Homo sapiens: one gene and its partners. The protein of the gene in region 1 purifies or fractionates together with the protein of each later gene. This does not show direct contact. Each region holds a gene or a part of one and is shown in the gene's direction. Other genes may lie near its edges.

The links.
Region 2: the proteins of CD33 (region 1) and ODR4 purify together in Homo sapiens (co-immunoprecipitation; one large-scale study listed by IntAct). This does not show direct contact.
Region 3: the proteins of CD33 (region 1) and TBC1D22A purify together in Homo sapiens (co-immunoprecipitation; one large-scale study listed by IntAct). This does not show direct contact.
Region 4: the proteins of CD33 (region 1) and NUP85 purify together in Homo sapiens (co-immunoprecipitation; one large-scale study listed by IntAct). This does not show direct contact.
Region 5: the proteins of CD33 (region 1) and CDCA7 purify together in Homo sapiens (co-immunoprecipitation; one large-scale study listed by IntAct). This does not show direct contact.
Region 6: the proteins of CD33 (region 1) and LMX1B purify together in Homo sapiens (co-immunoprecipitation; one large-scale study listed by IntAct). This does not show direct contact.
Region 7: the proteins of CD33 (region 1) and UBR3 purify together in Homo sapiens (co-immunoprecipitation; one large-scale study listed by IntAct). This does not show direct contact.

The regions. Positions count from the first base shown.
Region 1 is NC_000019.10:51,228,080-51,231,579, forward strand, and holds part of CD33 (myeloid cell surface antigen CD33 isoform 1 precursor), read left to right. Parts: intron 1-3,500. UniProt on the Homo sapiens protein: Sialic-acid-binding immunoglobulin-like lectin (Siglec) that plays a role in mediating cell-cell interactions and in maintaining immune cells in a resting state.
Region 2 is NC_000001.11:186,385,838-186,389,337, forward strand, and holds part of ODR4 (protein odr-4 homolog), read left to right. Parts: intron 1-150; coding exon 151-246; intron 247-2,604; coding exon 2,605-2,711; intron 2,712-3,500. UniProt on the Homo sapiens protein: May play a role in the trafficking of a subset of G-protein coupled receptors.
Region 3 is NC_000022.11:46,769,150-46,772,649, forward strand, and holds part of TBC1D22A (TBC1 domain family member 22A), read left to right. Parts: intron 1-3,500. UniProt on the Homo sapiens protein: May act as a GTPase-activating protein for Rab family protein(s).
Region 4 is NC_000017.11:75,208,679-75,212,178, forward strand, and holds part of NUP85 (nuclear pore complex protein Nup85), read left to right. Parts: intron 1-1,144; coding exon 1,145-1,307; intron 1,308-3,313; coding exon 3,314-3,384; intron 3,385-3,500. UniProt on the Homo sapiens protein: Essential component of the nuclear pore complex (NPC) that seems to be required for NPC assembly and maintenance. As part of the NPC Nup107-160 subcomplex plays a role in RNA export and in tethering NUP96/Nup98 and NUP153 to the nucleus.
Region 5 is NC_000002.12:173,367,185-173,369,497, forward strand, and holds the end of CDCA7 (cell division cycle-associated protein 7), read left to right. Parts: coding exon 1-102; intron 103-449; coding exon 450-480; 3' UTR 481-1,813; downstream 1,814-2,313. UniProt on the Homo sapiens protein: Participates in MYC-mediated cell transformation and apoptosis; induces anchorage-independent growth and clonogenicity in lymphoblastoid cells. Insufficient to induce tumorigenicity when overexpressed but contributes to MYC-mediated tumorigenesis.
Region 6 is NC_000009.12:126,686,928-126,690,427, forward strand, and holds part of LMX1B (LIM homeobox transcription factor 1-beta), read left to right. Parts: intron 1-3,500. UniProt on the Homo sapiens protein: Transcription factor involved in the regulation of podocyte-expressed genes. Essential for the specification of dorsal limb fate at both the zeugopodal and autopodal levels.
Region 7 is NC_000002.12:169,952,954-169,956,453, forward strand, and holds part of UBR3 (E3 ubiquitin-protein ligase UBR3), read left to right. Parts: intron 1-3,500. UniProt on the Homo sapiens protein: E3 ubiquitin-protein ligase which is a component of the N-end rule pathway. Does not bind to proteins bearing specific N-terminal residues that are destabilizing according to the N-end rule, leading to their ubiquitination and subsequent degradation.

The DNA.
Region 1 (3,500 bases):
TGCTTTTATGCCAATATCATGCTGTTTTGGTTACTACAGCTTTGTAGTTTTGAAATCTTTAAATTTTTGAAATTTTGAAATTTTCTAGTTTTGAAATTTTGAAATCTTGTAGTGTGATACCTCCAGCTTTGTTCTTTTTTGCTTGGGATTGCTTTGACCATTCAGGCTATTTTTAGTTCCATATGAATTTTAAGATTGTTTCCTCTAATTCTGTGAAGAATTACATTGATATTTTGATAGAGCCAGGTTTGAATCTGTAGATTTCTTTGGGTAGTATAATCATTTTAGCAATATTAATTCATCTGATGAGTAAGGAATGTCTTTCCATTTGTTTGTATCCTCTTCAGTTTATTTCCTCAGTGTTTTGTAGTTTTTCTTATTAAGGCTTGTCACCTCCTTGGTTAAATTTATTCCTAGGTATACTTCATTCTCTTATAGCTATTGTAAATGTGATTGCCTTCCTGATTTATTTTCAGCTAATTCATTGTGTGTAGAAATGCTACTGATTTTTGTATATTGATTTTGCATCCTGCAAATTTACTAAATTCATTTATCAGTTCTGAGAGTTTTATTGTTAGAGTCTTTAGGTTTTTGTTTTGTTTTGTTTTGTTTTGTTTTGTTTTTGAGATGGAATTTCACCATGTTGGCCAAGCTGGTCTTGATCTCCTGGCCTCAAGCAATCTGCCCACTTTGGCCTCCTAAAGTGCTGGAATTACAGGCATGAGCCACCACGCCTGGCCAAGTCTTTAGGTTTTTGTATGTTATTTGCAGAGACAATTTGACTTCCGCCTTTCCAGTTTGGATGGTTTTTATTTCTTTCTCTTGCCTAATTGCTCTGGCTAGGACTTTCAGTACTATGTAAAATAAGAGTCATAACAGTGGACATCCAGTTCCTAGAGGAAAAGATTTCAGCTTTTCTCCATTCAGTATGATGTTAGCCATGGGTTTGTCATATATGGCCTTTTTTGTGTTGAGGTACTTTCCTTCTATACCTAATTTATTGAGAGTTTCTATCATGAAACAATATTGAATTTTAACACATGCTTTTTATTCTGCAACTATTTAGGTGATCATACGGTTTATGTCCTTCATTCTGTTGACATATGTATAACATTTATTGATTTGCATATGTTGAATCATTCTTGCCTTTCTGGGATTAATCCCACTTTATCATGGTATGTTATCTTTTTGATGTATTGTTGGATTTGATTTGCTACTATTTTGTTGAATATTTTTGCATCTATGTTCATCAGGGATATTGGCCTCTAGTTTTCTTTTTTTATTGTCTCCTTTCTGATTTTGGTGTCATGGTTATGCTGGCCTTGTAGAATGAGTTAGGAAGAGTTGCCTCCACTTCAATTTTTTGGAATAGTTTGAGAAGAGTTGGCATAATTTTTTTTTCTTTAAAGGTTCAGTAAAGTTCAGCACTGAAGCCATCCAGCCCTGGAATTTTCTTTGTTGGGGGGCCTTTTATTATTCATTCAATCTCATTACTTGTTGTTTGTCTGCTGAAGTTTTCTATACCTTCTTGATTCAATCTCGGTAGATTATATGTGTCCAGGAACTTATCCATTTCTTCTAGACTTTCAAATTTGTTGGCATATTGTTCATAGTAGTGTCTAAGATCCTGTGTATTTCTGTGGTAACCATTGTGACATCTTCTTTTTTATTTATGATTTTATTAATTTTTATGTCTTCTGTCTCTTTCTTAGTTTAGCTAATGATTGTCAATTTTATTTATTTTTCCAAAAAGCGAACTTGTTCATTGATTTTTTTTTAATTTCATTTATTTCTGCTCTGATCTTTATGATTTCTTTCATTGTGCTGATTTTGGATTTGGTTTGTTCTTGCTTTCTAGTTTCTTGAAATGCACAGTTAAATGGTTTACTTGAAATTTGTCTAATTGTTTGATGTAGGCATTTATTTCTCTCAAGTTGTCTCTTAAAACTGTTTTTGCTGTGTCCCATAGGTTTTGGTATATTTTATTTCTATTTTTATTTATTTTGAGAAATTTTTAAATATCATTCTTAATTTCTTCCTTCACTATTGGTCATTTAGAATCATTTTGTTTCATTTCTGTGTATTTGTATAGTTTGCATGTTTCCCTTGGTATTGATTTTTAGTTTTATTCAATTGTAGTCAAATAAGATACTTGATACATTTTGGTTTTTAAAAATTTTTGGCACTTGTTTTGTGTTCTAACATATGGTCGATCCTTGGGAATGTTGCACATGCTGATGAAACCATGTGTATTCTGCAGCTGTCGGTTGAAATGTTCTGTAAATATCTTAGGTTCATTTGGTATATGGTGCAGTTTAAATCCAACGTTTATTTGTTAATCTTGTCTAGATGATTTGTTCAATGCTGAGAGTGGGGCGTTGAAGTCCTCAACTATTATTGTATTGGAGTCTATCTCTCCCTTTATATCTAATAATATTTGCTTTACATATCTGGGTGCTCTGGTGTTGTGTGCATATGTATTTACAGTTGTTATATTATAGTGCTGAACTGACCCCTTTATAATAATATAATGTCCTTCTTTGTCTCTTTACAGCTTTTGACTTGTAGTCCGTTTTGTCTGAGATAAGTATAGCTATTCCTGCTTCCTTTCATTTCCACTTGGGTAGAATATCTTTTTCCATCTCTTCCTTTTCAGTCTATGTGTGTCTTCTAGGTGAGATAAGTTTCTTGTAAGCAGTATATAGCTGTGTTGGTAGAAGGGCTGAGGCAGGGCTTGCTTGTCTGACATAATGTAAAAGAGTCTTGGAACATGTCCTGGGTCCAGGGTCTCAAACCCCTCGTGGCCTATGGAACACCAAGCTCTGTGCCTAAGGGTGGAAGGCTGCCCTGCCACACTGCAATCTAAGCCCAGGGCATAAAACCCCTCGTGGCTTGGAAAGAATCCAGGGCTCTGGGCATAAAACCCCTCATAGCCTCTGGAATGTGTCCAGACTTGCTGGCCCCTTGCTCCTTGCTCTCCCAGGATCATAAATTGATTGTATCTTGAGTGAAAAGAACTTGTTCTCCATTATTTCAAGTAGCAGAGCATATGCTAAACCGTCACAGCTATGCTTGATGCACCGCTACCTTTCTACCCCAAAGTCCTCACGTTCTCACTTGTCTATCCCCACTTCTGCACGTCCTCACCACCTGCTTCTTTGTTTGATTACCAATAAATAGTGTGGGCTCCCAGAGCTCGGGGCCTTCACAGCCTCCATACTAGCGTCGGCCCCCTGGACTCACTTTATGTACTATTAACTTGTCTTGTCTCATTCCTTTGACTCCGCTGGACTTCGTGGCCCCCACGGCCTAGTGTTGGATCTGATCACCCCAACAAGCTGAGTCTAGATTTTCTTTTCATTCATTCAGGCAGTCCATATATTTTAAATGGGACAATTTAATCCATTTACATACACATTATTATTAATAGGTTATTTTCATTTCATTGATTGTTTTCTGATTGTTTTATATATTCCTGGTTCCTTACTTCCCCTCTTATT
Region 2 (3,500 bases), on another chromosome or scaffold:
TGTAGCTAAAGGATGTTGTTATCAGATAGTTTTATTTATAAAGTAGTTTTAAGGTGAAAAGCTAAGGACATGCTAAGCAGACAGTTTCTCAAACAGAAAGGATTGCATATAATGCCAATTTGTTAGCTAATAATATATTTCTATTTTTAGGTATCCAGAATGCTACCAGGGGGACTTTTAGTTCTTGGAGTATTTATTATTACTACTTTAGAACTGGCAAATGATTTTCAAAATGCCCTGCGTAGAGTAAGTTTGATATATCGAAAATTCTTAATGAAATCAGTTATATGTTATTTTTACTGATTATGAGTATGTGTAATGATTCTAGGCATATTTACATTTGTTTTCCATAATTCTTTTTGTTGGGGTTACATTGAAAAAGCTTTTGTCACTCAATTGCTTGGATATCTTGAGTGTAAAAAATGTTTATATTTTTAAAAACTACACATTTTATTTATTATTTTTTCCATGGGTAATTTTATTCTTTATTTAGTACACTACCCAAAACAGGGCTATCATCAGCCCATATGGCATTTCATACAAATTTGAAAAAGCTATTCTTTCCTCAAGTTAAAAAGTTAAATTATTTACTTCTCAATAATAACCATGACTAATGACAGTAATTCCATGTAAATTATGCAAACAAATAATTCATTGTAAAATATTGAAAAATTCAAATGATTAATTATAATATTAAGAACTCAAAGTCACTTGGATCTAATAATTTGTTGTAAAAAAGGCATCTTTGTGGAAGTAATTCTTTTTGACAGAAAAACTACATATTTTAAAATAATCTTTATTTTAGAGGTAATTTCTGACTATTAGGAAACAAATTATAATGCTTTAAACAGTTTTTCTTATGCAATAGCAGTATTCTGTCACACCTTCCATTTAGTACCTAGTGATTACTGTAACATGAAATTAATAGGTGCTGAAATTCTTTACCTTCTTCTCAATTCTCCGGAGATCCTGAGAGTAAAACATAAACAATCAGATTATTCCTGGACACAGTATCTATCAGAAATCTCCTGTGTTTTTTGCTTAATTGCTGCACCAGAGAATTGGGTAACATAGTGTAAAAGTAAATATGAAGGTCCACATGCTGTTTTCCCTTAAACCCAAACCTAAGGTAGATTCTGTGTAGCCAGCTCTTTTAGCATTCAGGATCCACATGAACTTTTTGAAGGGTATTTCATACCCCAAAAGAGGGGGAACCTTAAAATCTTGAGACATATAAAACCCAACCCCAACAGTATCCCAGAAAAACATTTTTTAGGTAAAAAATATACAGCTGAGAACTTCAGATGTTACAGATTTTTTCAGTCTTGTAACCTGTCCTGTCAGATGTCCCAGCCTCAAGCCTTTGATATTTGCACCTAAGGGAGTAAGGGAAGAAAATGGAGATATTCTCCTCCCTGCTAAATTGTTTAACCCTCTGCCAACTTTTCCATCTTAAATAAATTTACCTTGTTTACAATTGTTCATTCTCTTTGGCATTTTGAAATTTAACCGAAATCTATGCGTATTTAATATTAATAGCATTCATTGTGCAACCTTTTTTGGCTGGTGCTGAATTGAGGGGGTTGAATGTGGGCCCAGTGCTAGAGAGATACAGCCAGGCCCACTTTCCTTGCTTTTGTATCTTTTGTTCCTAAAAAGTATATAAAACTTTAGAAATGCTTTATCTCTGACATTACTGAGTTTCAATTATCTAATTGTTTCCACTGGCTACACTGACAAACACTACAAGAAACAGCCTTATAAAACTTGTCAGTGTCACCCATTATTGTTAAGGACTTTATTCATCATATTACATTAATATTGTGTTTCCGGAAGAATTTCTTTTTATATTATGAAGAAGGTTGTGCCTCCTCTGATGATTGTTTTTAGCTTACAGACCATGTGAATTAGGTTACAGATTAGATTTCTCTCTGCACATTATTGTTAGAAAGCTTAGACCGAAATGTATTACCACCCCTTACATCAAGTATGCATTTTTATAATTCTTATTTCTGACACAAATTTATCTCACTATTCTACTTTAACTTTCAATTTGTTATTACTATATTTTATATGTTGTTATATATTGCCTTAAGTCTTGTGTGACGTTTAAATAAGAAATGCTAAATGGGTGACATGCTTGATTTCTTTAGTTAAAATCACTTATCATTTCTCATTCTAATTAAAGTCTCTGTTCTATAGTTTATATAAATTCTAGTTGCCCCAAATTAATTTTTTGTGTCCAGTTAATCTCTAATGATAGTGAATTAAATTTTTTTATTTAAACCCAATTTTTCTGTAATTTCCTAAAAGGAATTCAAAAATGTTAGTAATTAGCTCCAGTCTTTAATTTGAAGAAAAGAAAAATTAATGGTGGCACACACCTGTAGTCCCAGTTACTTGGGAAGCTGAGGTGAGAGAATCACTTGAGCCCAGGTGTTCAAGGCCAGCTTGAGCAACATAGTGAGACCCCTTCTCCAATAAATAAAGAATCATGGAATTTTAAAGCTAAATGAGAGTTGGGGACATTATAATTGCCTATTTCAACACTCATCTTTTTTTTTCATTTTACATTCAATTAGTGTGTATTTTTCTCTCTTTCAGCTAATGTTTGCTGTGGAAAAGTCTATAAATAGAAAGAGATTGTGGAATTTCACAGAGGAGGAAGTCTCAGAACGAGTGACACTTCACATTTGTGCTTCTACAAAAAAGTATCTTTTGTTCAGTTTATGGTTTAAAAGTACAAAGTACCAAAATAATATTCTTGCAAGGTTTTTTTGCTATTTATTTAAATCATCATTTAAAAAATAGGCATAGTTTTGTAAGATTTTTCTGTAAATAACATGGAATTAGAGCCACCAATAATAATAATAGCAATAATGGTTGTTAATCATGTCCCAAGGTGATAAAAAGCTTGAGATCTGTAATATGAAAGACTCAGGATTCTGAATTTTTTACCAGCTATCTGCCCTGTACATCCAAGCACAGCAGATTCCCTACAGAGATAAATGCCTAACTGATGGCTTAGGCAAAGTAATGTTTTTATTATGTTAAAGTTTTCACCTCCAGTTTCTATAGATAAGGATGTACAATTCAAAGCACAGGTGCACAGAGCTGGATGGTATAGGACATCGGAGAAATTCTTATGTCTTTGGCTAAGATGAAATGACACTAAAAGCCAGTTACACGGCCTCTTACCAGGGCAAGAGTACCTCCCAAGCAAGGGTCATCCTCACCAAAGGAGTGACACGATCCATGGACTTCCAAAGACAGAATTTTAAAAGTGACCATTCCTGCAGAAGCAGGGCTTTTTTTTTTTTTAACAACAACAAAAAAAATCTTTAGTATTTAACTGCAAAGTTTCATATACAAGCCCTTTAATCCAATAAATAGTCTCAGGTTTGACCTCATATAAAACAGTGGTACTTTTTCTTATGGAGAGTGTATATTTGAGAAGAATCTCACGAGTGCTTTGATTCTATTTATTGCAATTAGCGGGA
Region 3 (3,500 bases), on another chromosome or scaffold:
GAGCATGGCAAGGATGTGAGTGCTGGGATAAAGCTGGAGCACAAGAGGGTTCTTAGTGATGTGGCTCTGACAGCCTTCAGCTTACATTGCCAGAGCCACGAGATGTCTGTGAGCAAATCAGACGGTCGGCTGAATAGGCCACAGTCCGTCCTCAGCCGAAGGAGAGGCACTGTTGGGGATAATGAATTCATTTGGAAAACGTTTACGAGCTCCTCTCCTGTGCCAGGTGCTGTGGTGCGTGCTGAGCAAGCCATGTGGCTCTTCACGGCTGGACGCCTGCCCTGTGAACACATGCGCACAGACTGCAGTGCTGGGCAGGTGGCAGTCCCGGGACCCTGGCAGAGTAGCAAGGCCCTCACTGGGTGGAATGCTCATGTCCTCCTTACACAGGTCCCGCTTCCGCCGAGACCTGGCTGTACAGCAGGAACCGATCTGGCTGCTGAGGTCAGGGGAGGGTGTATAGGAGTGGGGAGCGCTTGACTGGGGAGGAGGGGCATGGAGGGTGGTGAGCAGGCACTGGAGCTGCTTCCAAGGCCATGGTGAAGATCTGAGCTGTGGTCCTAAGAGCCATGAGAGAGTGTTGAAGGGTTTTAAACAGGGAGGGGTGTGATACTGTGACACTGTTTGTCATCCTTGAAGAGAGGGCGAGAGAGGAAACTGGTGGGCTTCTGAGGAGGCCGAGGCCAGATGCTGTGGGGTTGGAGAGGATCGGGCATGTTCAGGGTACACATGGCACACTCAGGATTCACTGATGGGCGGGGTGCTGGGGGTCGAGGTGATCTCCAGGGTGCTGGCCTGAGGGGATGGGAGTGTGGTAGGCAGAATACTGGCCCCCTAAAGGTGTCCTCATCCTCATCCCTGACCCCTGTGAATATGTTCTGTTACATGGCAGAGGGGAATTAAGGTCGCTAATCAGCTGACCTGAAATGGGGGAATTGTCCTGTTACCTGGTGGGCCCAGTGTAACCTCACGAGCTTTTGGACGTGGTCAGAGACATGGTGTGGGATGGACTCCACCCACAGCGGCTGGCTTTGCAGATGGAGGAGGCAGCCACCAGGAATGTGGCGCGGCTTCTAGAAGCTGCGAAAGGCCTTCTGCAGATGGCTAACAGGAGAGCAAGGCCTTGCTCCTGCATCCGCCAGGAGCTGAATTCTGCCGCCAACCGGAGTGAGCAGGAAAGGGGTTCTCCCTTCGAGCCTCCCGGAAGGGGCACAGCTGGCTGACGCCTGGACTTCAGTGTGATGAGACCCATGCCGGATTTCTGACCTTCAGAACTTCGAGATAGTGAATGCATGTTTTAAGCTGTGGTAATTTGTTACAGCAGCTGTGAAGAGTTGGGGACTGTGCCGAGGGATGTCTGACAGGGAATGGCAGGTGGCCCAGCACCTCCCTCAGCAGAGTCCTGCACTTGGATGTGGGCAGGAGTACCTTGGTCAGCGGCCTTGGGGGTGGTCACTGGGTAACCTCCACAAAGTGTGTTTAAACCCAGGGGACTGAAGTCAGCTCGGAGGGTTCTTCCTATGTCCTATGTCCTGCTCAGGCCTAGGAACCAAATAGAGCCCTGCCTCTTTCCTCAGAATGTTGGCTGCTGCTTCTGGCCGCCTTGCTTTCTTGTGTTTTTTATAAATCTGTATTGCCTTTTGCTTATGTTTTGAAGAGATTGTTTATTGGGTAAGAACCCTCAGTCCTGTTTTCCATGCAGAGGGAAGCCCCGGAGTCTTGTTCCGGCAGTGATTGTGTGTTCCCCGCCAGTTGGGTTTCTCTTCTTGTTTGTGAGTGGAGATGACCTTCCTGTGACGGGGGCCGCGGAAGAGCTGGTGGGTGAGATTTTGCTGTAGGTGCAGTTCCTTTTCTTGTTCCTTTCAGCGGTTACTTTCCATGTTATTAAATGTCTTACTTTGTCCAGAAACACTTTGAAAAATAAATTGAATGTGAATCATATTTCCTTTCTCTTACATATTCGTCTGATAGAGTAAATCTGGACTCTGGGTTAATTTTAAATGAAGACAAAAATGATTGATCCCTGACAATTTTGGATTATTTATTTATTTGTTTCTTAAGTAACAAGAGCAGGAGGAAGTACCCCATCGCCTCCAAGTGTTTTTGAGGAACCATGGGATTCCTCATGGAATTGAGGAGAACAAGTCTTCGGAGACCACTTGTCTGTTTTTCTTTCTGTTTTTCTTTTTAATTTTTTATTTCTATAGATTACTGGGGAACAGGTGGTGTTTGGTTACATGAGTAAGTTCTTTAGTGGTGATTTGTGAGATTTGGGTGCACCTGAGCAGTATACACTGAACAGTGTATACTGAACAGTGCACCCGAGCAGTATACACTGAACCCAGTCTTTTATCCCTCACCCGCTTCCCATCCTTTTCCTCTGAGTCCCTGAAGTCTATTGTGTCATTCTTATGACTTTGCATCCTCATGGCTTAGGTCCTACTTACTATTTTTTTTTTTTTTGAGATGGAGTCTTGCTCTGTTGCCCAGGCTGGAGTGGAGTGGCGCGATCTCAGCTCATTGCAACCTCTGCCTCCCGGGTTCAGGTGATTCTCCTGTCTCAGCCTCCCGAGTGGCTGGGATTATAGGCACATGCCACCATGCCCGCCTAATTTTTGTATTTTTAGTAGAGATGGGGTTTCACCATGTTGGCCAGGCTGGTCTTGAACTCCTGACCTCAAGTGATCCACCCGCCTCGGCCTCCCAGAGTGCTGAGATTACAGGCGTGAACCACCATGCCTAGCCGTTAGCTCCCACTTATGAGTGAGAACAGGTGATGTTTGGTTTTCCATTCCTGAGTTACTTTACCCAGAATTGTTGTCTCCAATCTCATCGAGGTCTCTGCGAATGCCAGTAATTCATTCCTTTTTATGGCTAAGTAGTATTCCATCGTATATATACATATACATATATATGTATACACACATATACATATATATGTATACACACATATACATATATATGTATACACACATATACATATATATGTATACACACATATACATATATATGTATACACACATATACATATATATGTATACACACATATACATATATATGTATACACACATATACATATATATGTATACACACATATACATATATATGTATACACACATATACATATATATGTATACACACATATACATATATATGTATACACACATATACATATATATGTATACACACATATACATATATATGTATACACACATATACATATATATGTATACACACATATACATATATATGTATACACACATATACATATATATGTATACACACATATACATATATATGTATACACACATATACATATATAGTATACACACATATACATATATATGTATACACACATATACATATATATGTATACACACATATACATATATATGTATACACACATATACATATATATGTATACACACATATACATATATATGTATACACACATATACATATATACATATATACACAAACACACATGCACCGCACTTTTT
Region 4 (3,500 bases), on another chromosome or scaffold:
ATTACCTCAGATTTTACTAGTTGTGGACTGAAACAGTTGAATTTATTTTGTACTATTTTAATTTTCTCTATTTTGTTTTCAAGATACAACAGGGTTTTGTTGTGTCACCTGGGCTGGAGTACAGTGTGATCATGGCTCACTGCAGCCTCTACCTCTTGGGCTCAAGTGATCCTCTGCCTCAGTCTTCCTAGTAGCTGAGACTACAGGTCACCATGCCACCACGCCCAGCTAATTTTTTTTTCTTTGTAGAGATGGGAGTCTCATTTTGTTGCCTAGGCTGGTCTCGCACTCCTGGCCTCAAGCGATCCTGTTGCATTTTGGCATTTTTATTTTTGAAATGTTAGCTATTTTAGATTTTCATTGATTTTTGAGATCTTGAAGATGTTGAATCCCGGAAAAAAATTAATAGTTTTCATGAAAAATTTTCTTCATATTTAAAATGTCAAGCTTTTTATCCCTTTTTCTTTGTCCAAAGTGACCAAATTCCTATCAGTAGCTCCCTTATTGTGAACCTTGCAGATGCTTGGCCGTCACTTTTGTGTCCACAGCATGGATTCAGCTGAATAATAGTTCTGTAGGCTGAGCTGAGCCGTAGCATCCAAGGCACAGATGGAGCTGGAGAGTGACATAGCTTGTCCTTGGCTTGATTTTCCTGAGTTCCATCAGCTATTGGATAGGATGTGAATCTTTTTCTTTTCCTGATACAGTGATACAGTCTCCTTCCAGTAGAAGGATAAAACTGGAATCTTGACATTTGATTTGCTTTCTTTTTTTTTTTTTTTTTTTGAGACGGAGTCTCGCTCTGTCCAGGCTGGAATGCAGTGGTGTGATCTCGGCTCACTGCCACCTCCGCCTCCCGGTTTGAAGCAATTCTCCTGCCTCAGTCTCCTGAGTAGCTGGGAATGAAGGCATGTGCCACCACGCCCAGCTAATTTTTGTATTTTTAGTAGAGACAGGGTTTTGCTATGTTGGCCAGCCTGGTCTCGAATTCCTGACCTCGTGATCTGCCTGCCTTGGCCTCCCAAAGTGCTGGGATTATAGGCAAGAGCCACCATGCCCGGCCACAGAAAATTTTTTTAGAGTAGATTCACTTTTGGAGATGATCATAATAGATGTTAAATTTTTTTTTTCTGTTTGGTTTCAGAAAAATCAGAGATGGTGCCAAGTTGCCCCTTTATCTATATCATCCGTAAGGATGTAGATGTTTACTCTCAAATCTTGAGAAAACTCTTCAATGAATCCCATGGAATCTTTCTGGGCCTCCAGAGAATTGACGAAGAGTTGACTGGAAAATCCAGAAAATCTCAGTAAGTTGGTTGCTGTTTGGTGTTGAAGCCCACACTACACTGTGGAAAGCCAAATGAAGTACATTGTTGTCTTTTTGTGTGTTTTATGGGTTGCGTAAAGAAATAAGAGACTCCTGGTTCTAGTTGAGGCATGAGTACTGGACAGTGTACATTAGCAGTGATGGGAAGACTTAGCGGGAATATGCAAATGCTATTGATGGGCTGGCTTGACAAGCTTTATTTATATTCATATTTTACTTAGCCTCTAAAGAAGAAAATTTAGGCCACACAAGCATGTGAGAGTCGTTGAATGAGGTCACATTGTTGGGAGATTTGAAAATTAATATAAACCTAACAGTTTTGTCTCTAAAAAATTATGGTTCAGACGTTATTTGACAACAGACCAGAAAACTCTCGTACTATTTATAGATTAGGATTTTCTTGAATTGTAGTTCATAACTTCATCATTATCAGAGTGGTACTTGTTAATTGTAGACTTTTGGGACCCACCTCAGATCATCAAAATCAAAATCTCCGTGGTTGGATCTTAAAATCTCCAGCACACTGAAGTTTAAGAACTCCTGTGTTAGATTTTTGTCAGCGTCCCTTCACATGGATGGCTAGGGAATGGGCAGTGTTGGTATGTTACTTCTTTGATAAGCTTTTCACAAATGAATCATTCTGGACAAGACTCAGGTCAGCTTCTGTGTGAGTGTGTGCAAGAGTGATTATTGGTTGTTTTTCTGTTTTTTTTCGAGGCAGAGTTTCGCTCTGTCACCCAGGCTGGAGTGCAGTGACGCGTTCTCCGCTCACTGTAAGCTCTGCCTCCTGGATTCACGCCATTCTCCTGCCTCAGCCTCCCGAGTAGCTGGGACTACAGGCGCCTGCCACCACATCCGGCTAATTTTTTGTATTTTTAGTAGAGACGGGGTTTCACCGTGTTAGCCAGGATGGTCTCGATCTCGTGACCTCGTGATCCACCTGCTTCGGCCTCCCAAAGTGCTGGGATTACAGACGTGAGCCACTGTGCCTGGCCCTGTTTTTTTTTTTTTTTTTGAGACAGAGTTTCACTCTGTCACCCAGGCTGGAGTGCAGTGGCGCAATCTTGGCCCACTGCAGCCTCTGCCTCCTGGGTTGAAGCCATTCTCCTGCCTCAGCCTCCTGAGTAGCTGGGATTACAGGTGCGTGCCACCACGCCTGGCTAATTTTTGCATTTTTAGTAGAGATGGGGTTTCATCATTTTGGCTGGGCTGGTCTTGAACTCCTGACCTCAAGTGATCTGCCCACCTCAGCGTCCCAAAGTGCTGGGATTATAGGAGTGAGCCACTGCACCTGGCCTGATTATTGGATTTAAGGGACTCTAGTGGAGAATATTGGTGAGTTTGAGAAATCTATTGTCACTTCTAGGAAAAAAACATGTCAAAAGTCCTGTAATTCCTTGCTGGCAGGGGACCCTGTCTTATTCTTTTTTTTTTTTTTTCAGATGGAGTCTCACTCTGTCGCCCAGGCTGGAGTGCAATGGCATGATCTTGGCTCACTGCAACCTCCGCCTGCCGGGTTCAAGAGATTCTCCTGCCTCAGCCTCCTGAGTAGCTGGGATTTTTGTATTTTTAGTAGAGACAGGGTTTCACCAGGTTGGCCAGGCTGGTCTCAAACACCTGACCTCAGGTGATCTGCCCACTTTCACCTCCCAAAGTGCTGGGATTACACGCCTGAGCCACCGGGCCTGGCCAGTAAATACATTTATGTATCTTTTTTATTTTTTTGAGACAAGGTCTGACCAGTAGATTTCATCTGCAACAATTAATGGCAGTATGGGTTTGTGGATATTAACTTTAGCCCATGGGTTGTTTTGTGGCGTTTTATTTTGTTGTCCAAGTTGTTCCAGCTTCAGAAGGTTAGGAGCTCCTTCACAACGGCTCTCCTCTTTCTTTCAGCAAATTTCTGCATTTATTTGAGTGTTTCCTTCCTTTGTGGCACTACAAGATGTTCCAGGCTCATCTTGTGTGTTATTTCATTTTTTGTAGATTGGTTCGAGTGAGTAAAAACTACCGATCAGTCATCAGAGCATGTATGGAGGAAATGCACCAGGTTGCAAGTAAGGACTGTGTGCGCGTGCGCGCGTGTGTGTGTGTGTGTGTGTGTGGGTATTTTGAGTATTTATCTATGCATAAATACTGTGAGGTAAAGTTTGATTGATATTCCAGTCCAAAA
Region 5 (2,313 bases), on another chromosome or scaffold:
CTGCAGTTTCTGCCGGCAGCGAGATGGACGGTGTGCGACTGGGGTCCTTGTGTATTTAGCCAAATATCATGGCTTTGGGAATGTGCATGCCTACTTGAAAAGGTAGTGGGTGTTTTTTTTTCCCTTCCACATCTGAATTTTATATTCATTTATGTCTTAATGAGAAGATGATAGATGTCAGAAGAGTGGTTATCTCTGGCGGGGTGGAGACTGACTGGAACGGGGCACACTGGAAGGGATGGGAACATTTTCTGTCTTCACTTAGGTGGTGGTAACCCGGGTGGGTGGGTGTGTATGAAAAAGTCAGGTAATATACTTGAAGATGCGCACACTTGACCATAGTGATGTTATAACTCAATAAAAATGGTTTTAAAAATGAATTAGGCTTTCAAAAGAGAATTCTTTGGTTGAAAACTATGTCCTGACACATTTCCTTTTGTTTTTCACAGCCTGAAACAGGAATTTGAAATGCAAGCATAATATCTGGAAAATTTGCTGCCTGCCTTCTACTTCTCAAATCTTTCTTGTAAAAGTTTCCAATTTTTTCACTGAAACCTGAGTTAAAAATCTTGATGATCAGCCTGTTTCATAAGAAACTCCAATCAAGTTAATCTTAGCAGACATGTGTTTCTGGAGCATCACAGAAGGTATATTGCTAGTTACACTTTGCCCTCCTGCAGTTTCTTCTCTGCTCCCAACCCCCATCTCACAGCATCCCCCTCTATTTCCAATGCTCCTCTCCAACCGCTTAGTTTCTGAATTTCTTTTAAATTACAGTTTTATGAAAGCATATTTTATTTACTTGGTGTTGAAATAGCCCTCATAAAACCTAAGCACTTGGAAACACAATAATAGTATTAACTAACTAGATCTATTGAATTTCAGAGAAGAGCCTTCTAACTTGTTTACACAAAAACGAGTATGATTTAGCATTCATACTAGTTGAAATTTTTAATAGAATCAAGGCACAAAAGTCTTAAAACCATGTGGAAAAATTAGGTAATTATTGCAGATTGATGTCTCTCAATCCCATGTATTGCGCTTATGTTACAAGTTGTTGTCACAGTTGAGACTTAATTTCTCCTAATTTCTTCTGCCCGAAGGGTAAGTGGTGCGTCCAGCTTACACAATCATAATTCAAAGGTTGGTGGGCAATGTAATACTTAATTAAAATAATGATGGAAGAGCTATCTGGAGATTATGAGTAAGCTGATTTGAATTTTCAGTATAAAACTTTAGTATAATTGTAGTTTGCAAAGTTTATTTCAGTTCACATGTAAGGTATTGCAAATAAATTCTTGGACAATTTTGTATGGAAACTTGATATTAAAAACTAGTCTGTGGTTCTTTGCAGTTTCTTGTAAATTTATAAACCAGGCACAAGGTTCAAGTTTAGATTTTAAGCACTTTTATAACAATGATAAGTGCCTTTTTGGAGATGTAACTTTTAGCAGTTTGTTAACCTGACATCTCTGCCAGTCTAGTTTCTGGGCAGGTTTCCTGTGTCAGTATTCCCCCTCCTCTTTGCATTAATCAAGGTATTTGGTAGAGGTGGAATCTAAGTGTTTGTATGTCCAATTTACTTGCATATGTAAACCATTGCTGTGCCATTCAATGTTTGATGCATAATTGGACCTTGAATCGATAAGTGTAAATACAGCTTTTGATCTGTAATGCTTTTATACAAAAGTTTATTTTAATAATAAAATGTTTGTTCTAACTTGTCTGCTTTTTTAAAAATAATCTTACTGTACTTAATTCTAATTTTTTCCTCATATTTAAATAAAAGGCCATTTCCACCTTTTCTAAAAAAGTCTCCCTTTTGACTGAAGTTTCTGAAGTTCTAAGGTCAGCTTGTTTGAAAGGACCTCACTAGGTGACAGGACTAATACCTGTGATCAGAAAACGGGCGGAGACAACCACAGTGCCTGATAGAAAACAATATGTGCCCATGAAGTTTTGTAGTGTTTTCTTTTCCTTTATGATGTGCTTTGCAATACCTGGCTTACTTTTATCAACCATTCAAACATATATTAAATGCATGCTGTGCCTTGAGGCTTGTTCCAGGACTGTGAGAATCAACAAAAAAGGCATGGTCTAAAAGCTCTCATAGCCCAATTCTTTTTTTATTTTTTGTAGAGACAGGTCTTGCTATGTTGCTCAGGCTGGTTTCAAACTCCTGGGCTCAAGGGATCCTCCTGCCTTGGCCTCCCAAAGTCACAGGCAAGAGCCACCACCACACCGGCTGTCCAATTCTTTAGACCAGGGATTGGCAAACTACAGCCTGTGGGCTACATGCTGCTGCAGAGTTTA
Region 6 (3,500 bases), on another chromosome or scaffold:
GAGTGCTCTGTCCAGATCAGGCCAAACAAGCTAGAAGGGCTGGCCGGAACCCGGGGTGGTGGTGAGAAGGAGGCACAGTGGGGCCCTGTAAACCCAGTCAGCGTCAGGGAGGCTGCCCCCAGGAATCATGGAGACTCTAGCAAGGGTGAGCAACAAAGGCGTTTTGGGCACACACCGAACAAAAGAAATGTGGGGTACCTGGAGTACCTTCTTCATGCCAGCATGGTGCCGAGGGCTTTAAATGCATCCAGCCCCTGCCAACAACCCCATGGTCGGGGATGATCATTCCCTTTTTTTTTTTATTTTTTATATATTTTTTGAGACGGAGTCTCTCTCTGTCGCCCAGGCTGGAGTGCAGTGGTGCGGTCTTGGCTCACCACAATCTCCACCTCCCAGGTTCAAGTGATTCTCTTGCCTCAACCTCCGGAGTAGCTAGGATTACAGGTGTGTGCCACCATACCCGGCTAATTTTTTGTATTTTTAGTAGAGACGGGGTTTCACCATGTTGGCCAGGCTGGTTTTGAACTCCTAACCTTAAGTGATCCGCCCGCCTCAGCCTCCCAAAGTGCTGGGATCACAGGCGTGAGCCACCGCGCTGGCCTGATCATTCCCATTTTATAGATGAAGAATTTGAGGTTCAGAGAGGTCAAATGCCTTGCCTAAAGCTGCACAGCAAGGAAGTTATGGAGGTTGTGCCCGCCACACCTGCTGCTTTACACTGACAACTCGCTACATCTTCATGCTGAGATGCAGGCAGTGTTGTCCAGCCCATTGTATAGATAAGTGAGCTGAGGCTCGAGAAGAAAAATTACTTGCCCGGTCACCAGCTAGCAAGTGGTGGGACAAGGCATGGAACTCAAGTCCATGTGATTCCAATGCCACCTGTCTGTGGCTGGGCCTTCTTCTCAGTGGCTGGCTCCATAGTCCTCCGTGGTGGGAGGCACGAAGAGAGGGGGAATGGGGGCTCACAGAGAAGAGGGAACCCCGCTGGTATCCCCAACCCCTCCCATACACGCCATTAGTCGCTCTCACCCCAGCACAGTAGACAAAGGCAGCCCCATAATTGGGAGTGAGTATTTCATGCATCCCCCCCGATGTTTTATTGGGTGGAGAGATGCTTGGAGACCAAACGGATGGCGCATTCTGTTTATAAAGTGCGCGCAGTTTGTTTTATTTCCTGAGTTTTTGCAATCTAGATAACAGATGATACCCTGAGTGGCTGGCGCTGCCTCTGTAATGGCGGCACTGAGCCTTTGGAGAAGTATTAATAATAGATTGTGTTGATGAGTTTGGAGAAAGTAGCAATCGACCCCCTGCTGCCAAGGCATTAGCGCGGCTGTTCTGAGCACAGCCAGCACTGTGGCTTTGACTGCAAATGCAGGTCACCCGCCCTGCTGCCCCTTCCCCAGCCTAAGAAGGTTTCCTCTCCGGGAGTCACCCAAGGTGTGCTGACCCTGGCCTGGGACCCTGGGACCGTGGCGCTCCCACGCTAGCAGCGACACGGCCAGTGTCTGTCCACTCAGAGGCCGCAGAGGTCAGGCTGCAGACCTTAGTGTGGCCACTAGGTCAGGTGGAGTGTGGGGAGGGGACAGAGGGGCAGTAGGGGTTGGGGGAGGACCACCCTCCATGTCAGAGCACCGGGTTCTACAAACCCAGGCTCCTTCCTCAGCCCCTCGGGAGAGCTGGACAGCCAGCCAGATTCCTAGGGCCTCTGCCTAAAGCTGTCACTGACAGTTGGGTAGGTTGTGCCCTGAACAAGGGGATTCAGCCAGAGGGCCAAATTAGAGCCAAAATCCAGCCCACATTCCCCTTGCAGAGCCATGCCCTGCAGGCTGGTGGGGTCCAGCATGCCCAGAGCAGAGCCTGGCCTCAGCCTCAGCTCACCCCAGGCCTTTACTCACCTACTCTGTAAACACTCACGGAGGCCCCCTTGAGGATCAGATGGGGCCAGGTCCTGTCTCATGGAACCCTGGTAGAGGTGGTAGAGTTGGGCACCAACAGGGACATGCATTGTCATTCTGCTGTGATACCCGTGTACTGAGTTACATGCTCAGCATCCTCGAATCCTGACAACAGCCTTCAGGAAGGGCTTGACATCTCCATTTTACAGGAGTAAACTGAGGTGGGGGACGCTGAGGGGAGCATAGAGGAGGCTACCTCCCCCAGACTGGGGCATCAGAGAAGGCTTCCCAGAGGAGGTGGCATTGGAGTTGGGCATTGCAGGATGAGTAGGAGCCTGCTGGGTAGAATAGAGGTGGGTGGCAGGGGTTGCTGGGGGTGCCCCCTGCTGAGTGCTCTGGCCAGTGCCCAGGCAGCATGCAGAGCTCCAAGTGGCCCTGCCCACTTCGCCCCACCAGCTCGCCGTGGGCGGTTCTGACGGCAGCTCCAGGAAGGGAGGCAGGCGAGTGCCTCCCATTTATGGCCATTTCTGTTCCAGAACCGATTAGTAGAGAATTGCAGCTGTAATCTGTGCCCGTGATGGTGGGCCATAAAGAGGGATGGGATGTGCACAGCGCTCCCAAGGTGGCGCCCGCAGACATGGCCCGGGGACGCCGGGAATGAAAAATGGTTTTAATTCCCTCCCAGCAGCAATAATTTGATTCTTCATAAATTTTTCCATCAAAGTGTTGTTGAGCTGAGTTCCCACAGAGCAGGACACGTGACAGGGTGGGGGAGTGTCGGGAGGAGCGGTCAGCAGACACAGCAGAGGAGGGGCCGTGCTGCCCAGCCCTCCTGCTAGTGCTGACCAGGGCCCGGAGACCACCTCTCCCGGCCCTCGTTTGTCTGCAGAGATGATGGGAGATGGGAGATGGAATCACGTTGTCATGTGGAAGCTGGATTAGGCCCAGCCTGGGAGTTGCCTCCAGCATTTACTACCCATGCGACCCTGAGCAAGCAACTCTGCCTCTTAGCACCTCAATTTCCTCATCTCTAAAATGGGGTTAATGTTCATTCTTTTCTTGCAGGGTTGTTGCAAGGATTAAATGCGTCTCTGCATATAAGATGCTTAGAGCAGGGCTGGCACTCTATACGTGCTCAGTGAATATCTGTTCGTGATGGAGATGCGTAAGCTGAGACGGAGGGATGGGAAGGTGTTAGCCAAGCCAAAGGACAGAGAAAGATGGGTCGAAAGATGGCTGCCATGATAGTGCTCTGGAGAAACTGCAGGCTGTTCTTTGGGGCTGCAGCCTGGGGAAGCAGAGGGTAGAAAGGGAAGAGGCGGGATCATGAAGGGCCTTGAGTGCCAGCCTCAGGAGCTCGGATGGTCTCCTAAGGGCACTAGGGAGCCATGGAAGAGTCTGGAGCAGGGAAGCAGCTTGATCCGATTTGTATTTTAGAAAGATCCCCCTGGCTCCTGTGTGTGTGACGGTTCCTGTGTGGGCTGGGGTTTGAAGGATTGAAGGGGCCAGGAGCCCAGAGAGGGGACCAGGCAGTTGCTCGGGCAGGAGAGGAGGGGCCCAGGCTGGGCAGTGGGTTGGGCAGGGCTGGGAATTGCTTGG
Region 7 (3,500 bases), on another chromosome or scaffold:
TGGTCTCTCTTAGTGGTCAGATCCTTCTTTCTGTTATATAATAGTATATCCTTTTATTTTGAAAGAAGATAAACAGTGAATCAAAATCTGTTTTTCTTGATTAAGGGAATTTTGTAATTATTACTAATAATGTGATACTGGAGGACATAGTTTAGATGCTGCTTTTACAAAGGCCCTGATGCTATTGTAATAAATAATATTCTAAAAATTTTAAAGGCTTTCTTTGTGATAGGTTTTGTTTTCTTTGAACAATGATGGTATTGACAAGGACTTGAAACTAATTTTGTAGCAGACAGCTAAGGATTAAGATGACTCTATTTGGATCTCACCGTGCTTCTCACATTTGTCTTTCCTCTGGTTTCGTTTTGGATTTTCATAATAAAGGCAGAACAGTTCATAAACACTTAATGAGGATCCATTTCCAAGTACTTCACCTTTAGACAAACTCAGCATCACTTTCATAATAGATTAACTTAATAGAAAACAAGATGCAAGCAGAAAACATTAGATGGTTGTAATAAAATGCAGCTTCAATGTCTTTAACCCAGGAGTTAATGGAAAATTTTTGAGTTGTCCTGAATCTGCCAGAACTTGTATATGTTCTTGTTAATGGCCTTTATTTACATTTATGCCCATTTAGAAAAGCAATAATCTCGATTAAGAAAACATTCACAACAATGACATCCCATTTCTGGTTAGTATAGAAACCTGCTATAGAAATGCATTTTAGTATTAGTGTCAAGCAGTTACATTTGAGGTTTTCTTATGTTTAATAGATTTTTAAAAAGTACACTCTATGGACATATGTATTCTAATTGTAAGTGTACATGTTTAAAGGTGAGCTGTAGAGTGAGTGGCATTAATTAAAGAAGTATGGCAAAACTTACAGATTTACGAACTAGTGATTCAGAAGACCAAAAATGTAGTCTGTCAATGCTGTTGTTGCTCATAGCATTTTTGGAGGTCACTTAGAGTGCTTTGAGCATCTAGAGCACATTTTTCTTTGCTTCCATTTCTTCCATTGTGGCAAATATTTGTCCTTTGAGGATGGATTTAATTTTAAAAAGCTTTTTATTTTGAAGTAATCTTAAACTTACATAAATGGTTCAGGAAGTTCTTTGTACCCTCAACTATCAGAATTAGCAGATTGATAGTGGTATTTGAGTATGATTTAGATCCCAAGTTTTGATAGTTGTCCCAATAATGTTTGATTTGTCTTGTCTTGTCTTGTCTTGTCTTGTCTTGTCTTGTCTTGTCTTGTCTTGTCTTGTCTTCTCTTCTTAATTCATTTCTTTTCTTTTCTTTGAGACAGGGTCTTGCTCTGTCACTCAGGCTGGAGTATAGTGGTATGATCACGGCTCACTGCAGCCTTGACCTCCTAGGCTCAAGTGATTCTCCCGCCTCAGCCTCCTGAACAGCTGGGACTACAGGTGTGTGCCACCATGCCTGGCTAATTTTTAAAAATTATTTGTAGAGATGAGGTCTTGCTATGTTGCCCAGGCTGGTCTCAAACTCCTGGGCTCAAGTGATCCCCCCGCCTCAGCCCCACAAAGTGGTGTGATAACAGGCATGAGCCGCTGCTCCTAGCCCCCAATAATATTTCTTTTGTTACTTACCTTTTTTTTTTTTTTTTCGTTTTTGAGACAGAGTCTCTTTCTGTCACCCAGGCTGGAGAGCAGTGGCGCGATCTCAGCTCACTGCAACCTCTGCCTCCTAGGTTCAAACAGTTCTCTGCCTCAGCCTCCCGAGTAGCTGGGATTACAGGTGCTTGCCACCATGCCCGGCTAATTTTTGTATTTTTAGTAGAGACAGGGTTTCACCATGTTGGCCAGGCTGGTCTTGAACTCCTGACCTTGTGATCCACCCGTCTCGGCATCCCAAAGTGCTGGGATTACAGGCGTGAGGCACTGTGCCCAGCCAGTAATATTTCTTATAGCAGAAAGATCCAGTTCATAATCACTCCTTGCATTTAGTTGTCATGCCTCTTTGTTCTCCTTCAATATGGAAGTTTTTGTTTTCATAACCTTGGCACTTTTAAAGATTATGAAGCAGTAGTAACATTGTAGAATATCCCTTAATTTGGGATTGTCTGTTTTCCCTTTATGTTTTGACTCAGTTTATACAACTTTGGCAGGAATGTAAATGAAGTGTTGCTGTTTTCTTTTCATTGTATCCCACAAGCTGTTATATGATTTCAATTTGTTTCATCACTGGTGATTAACTTTGATCATGTCTGCCAGACTTCTTCACAGTCAAATTACCTTTCCCACCCCACTTTACAATTAATACGTAATTTGTGGAGAGATACTATGAGATATTGTAATATCCCAATTCATATCAACTTTATATTCATTTATTTTTATCAGTGTGGACTCATGGGTTCCTATTTTATTTTATGGGTTATAATCTCATATGCTTGTTATTAATTTTGGTGCTCAAATTATTACAGATTTGGCCACTAGGAGTCATGTCAAGCTGGTTTCCGGGTCCTTTTGATCTATTCCCATCATTCTTTGAGCATATTCCTATTTTCTGGGGCAATAAGATGTTCCAGGCTTGGCCAGGTGTCGTGACTCACACCTGTAATCCCAGCACTTTGGGAGGCTGAGGCGGGCAGATCACCTGAGGTCAGGAGTTCGAGATCAGCCTGGCCAATGTGGAGAAACCCTGTCTCTACTAAAAATACAAAAATTAGTTGGGCATGGTGGTGCGTGCCTGTAATCCCGGCTACTCAAGAGGCTGAAGCATGAGAATTGCTTGAACCTGGGAGGCAGAGGTTGCAGTGACCTTAGATCGTGCCACTGCACTCCAGCTTGGGCCATAGAGTGAGACTCCATCTCAAAAAAAAAAAAAAAAAAGATGTTGCAGGCTTATCCTGTACTTGGAGTCAGCCATTTCTCCAAGGAGTCCTGGTTGCTTTTAGGAGAGAATGGTATTTAGAAACCCCAGTCCATGTGTTTATTCTAATGAAGTATAGCTGTCTCAGGCCCTCTTAGGACAGAGCTGGGGAAAATTGTGTGTGTGTTTCTTTGTTTGTCTGTGTTTGTGTTGGAAGGTAGTGTGAGAGAGGAAGGGAGAAATTTATATTTAGTTTTATGTCTGACTTTATGTACTGAAAACTGTGAGTTCACTCTGATACTTTCAATTCCAATCCATCCCTCTAGGAGTCATTCTTGTTTTCTCTCTTTCTCAGTTTCCAGAGTAACTCTGTAACTCTCTACTTCTGCAGTGAGATACCTGACACCTATAACTCTCTCTCTCTCTCTCTCTCTATCTGTGTATCTATCTATCTGGATAGATATATTTAACTTTTTTAGTTAAAAATTACATATATTTAACTAAAATGTTATATATATATATATAACTTTTTTAAAAATCAACTCCCTTATATATAACCACTTTCTTCTAATCTTTTACCATACAAATGCCCTCCCGTGCCAGGTTGTCGAGTCCTGACACTCTGTGCTAGGACATGTTCAGAAAGGGAAGAGAGGGGATGG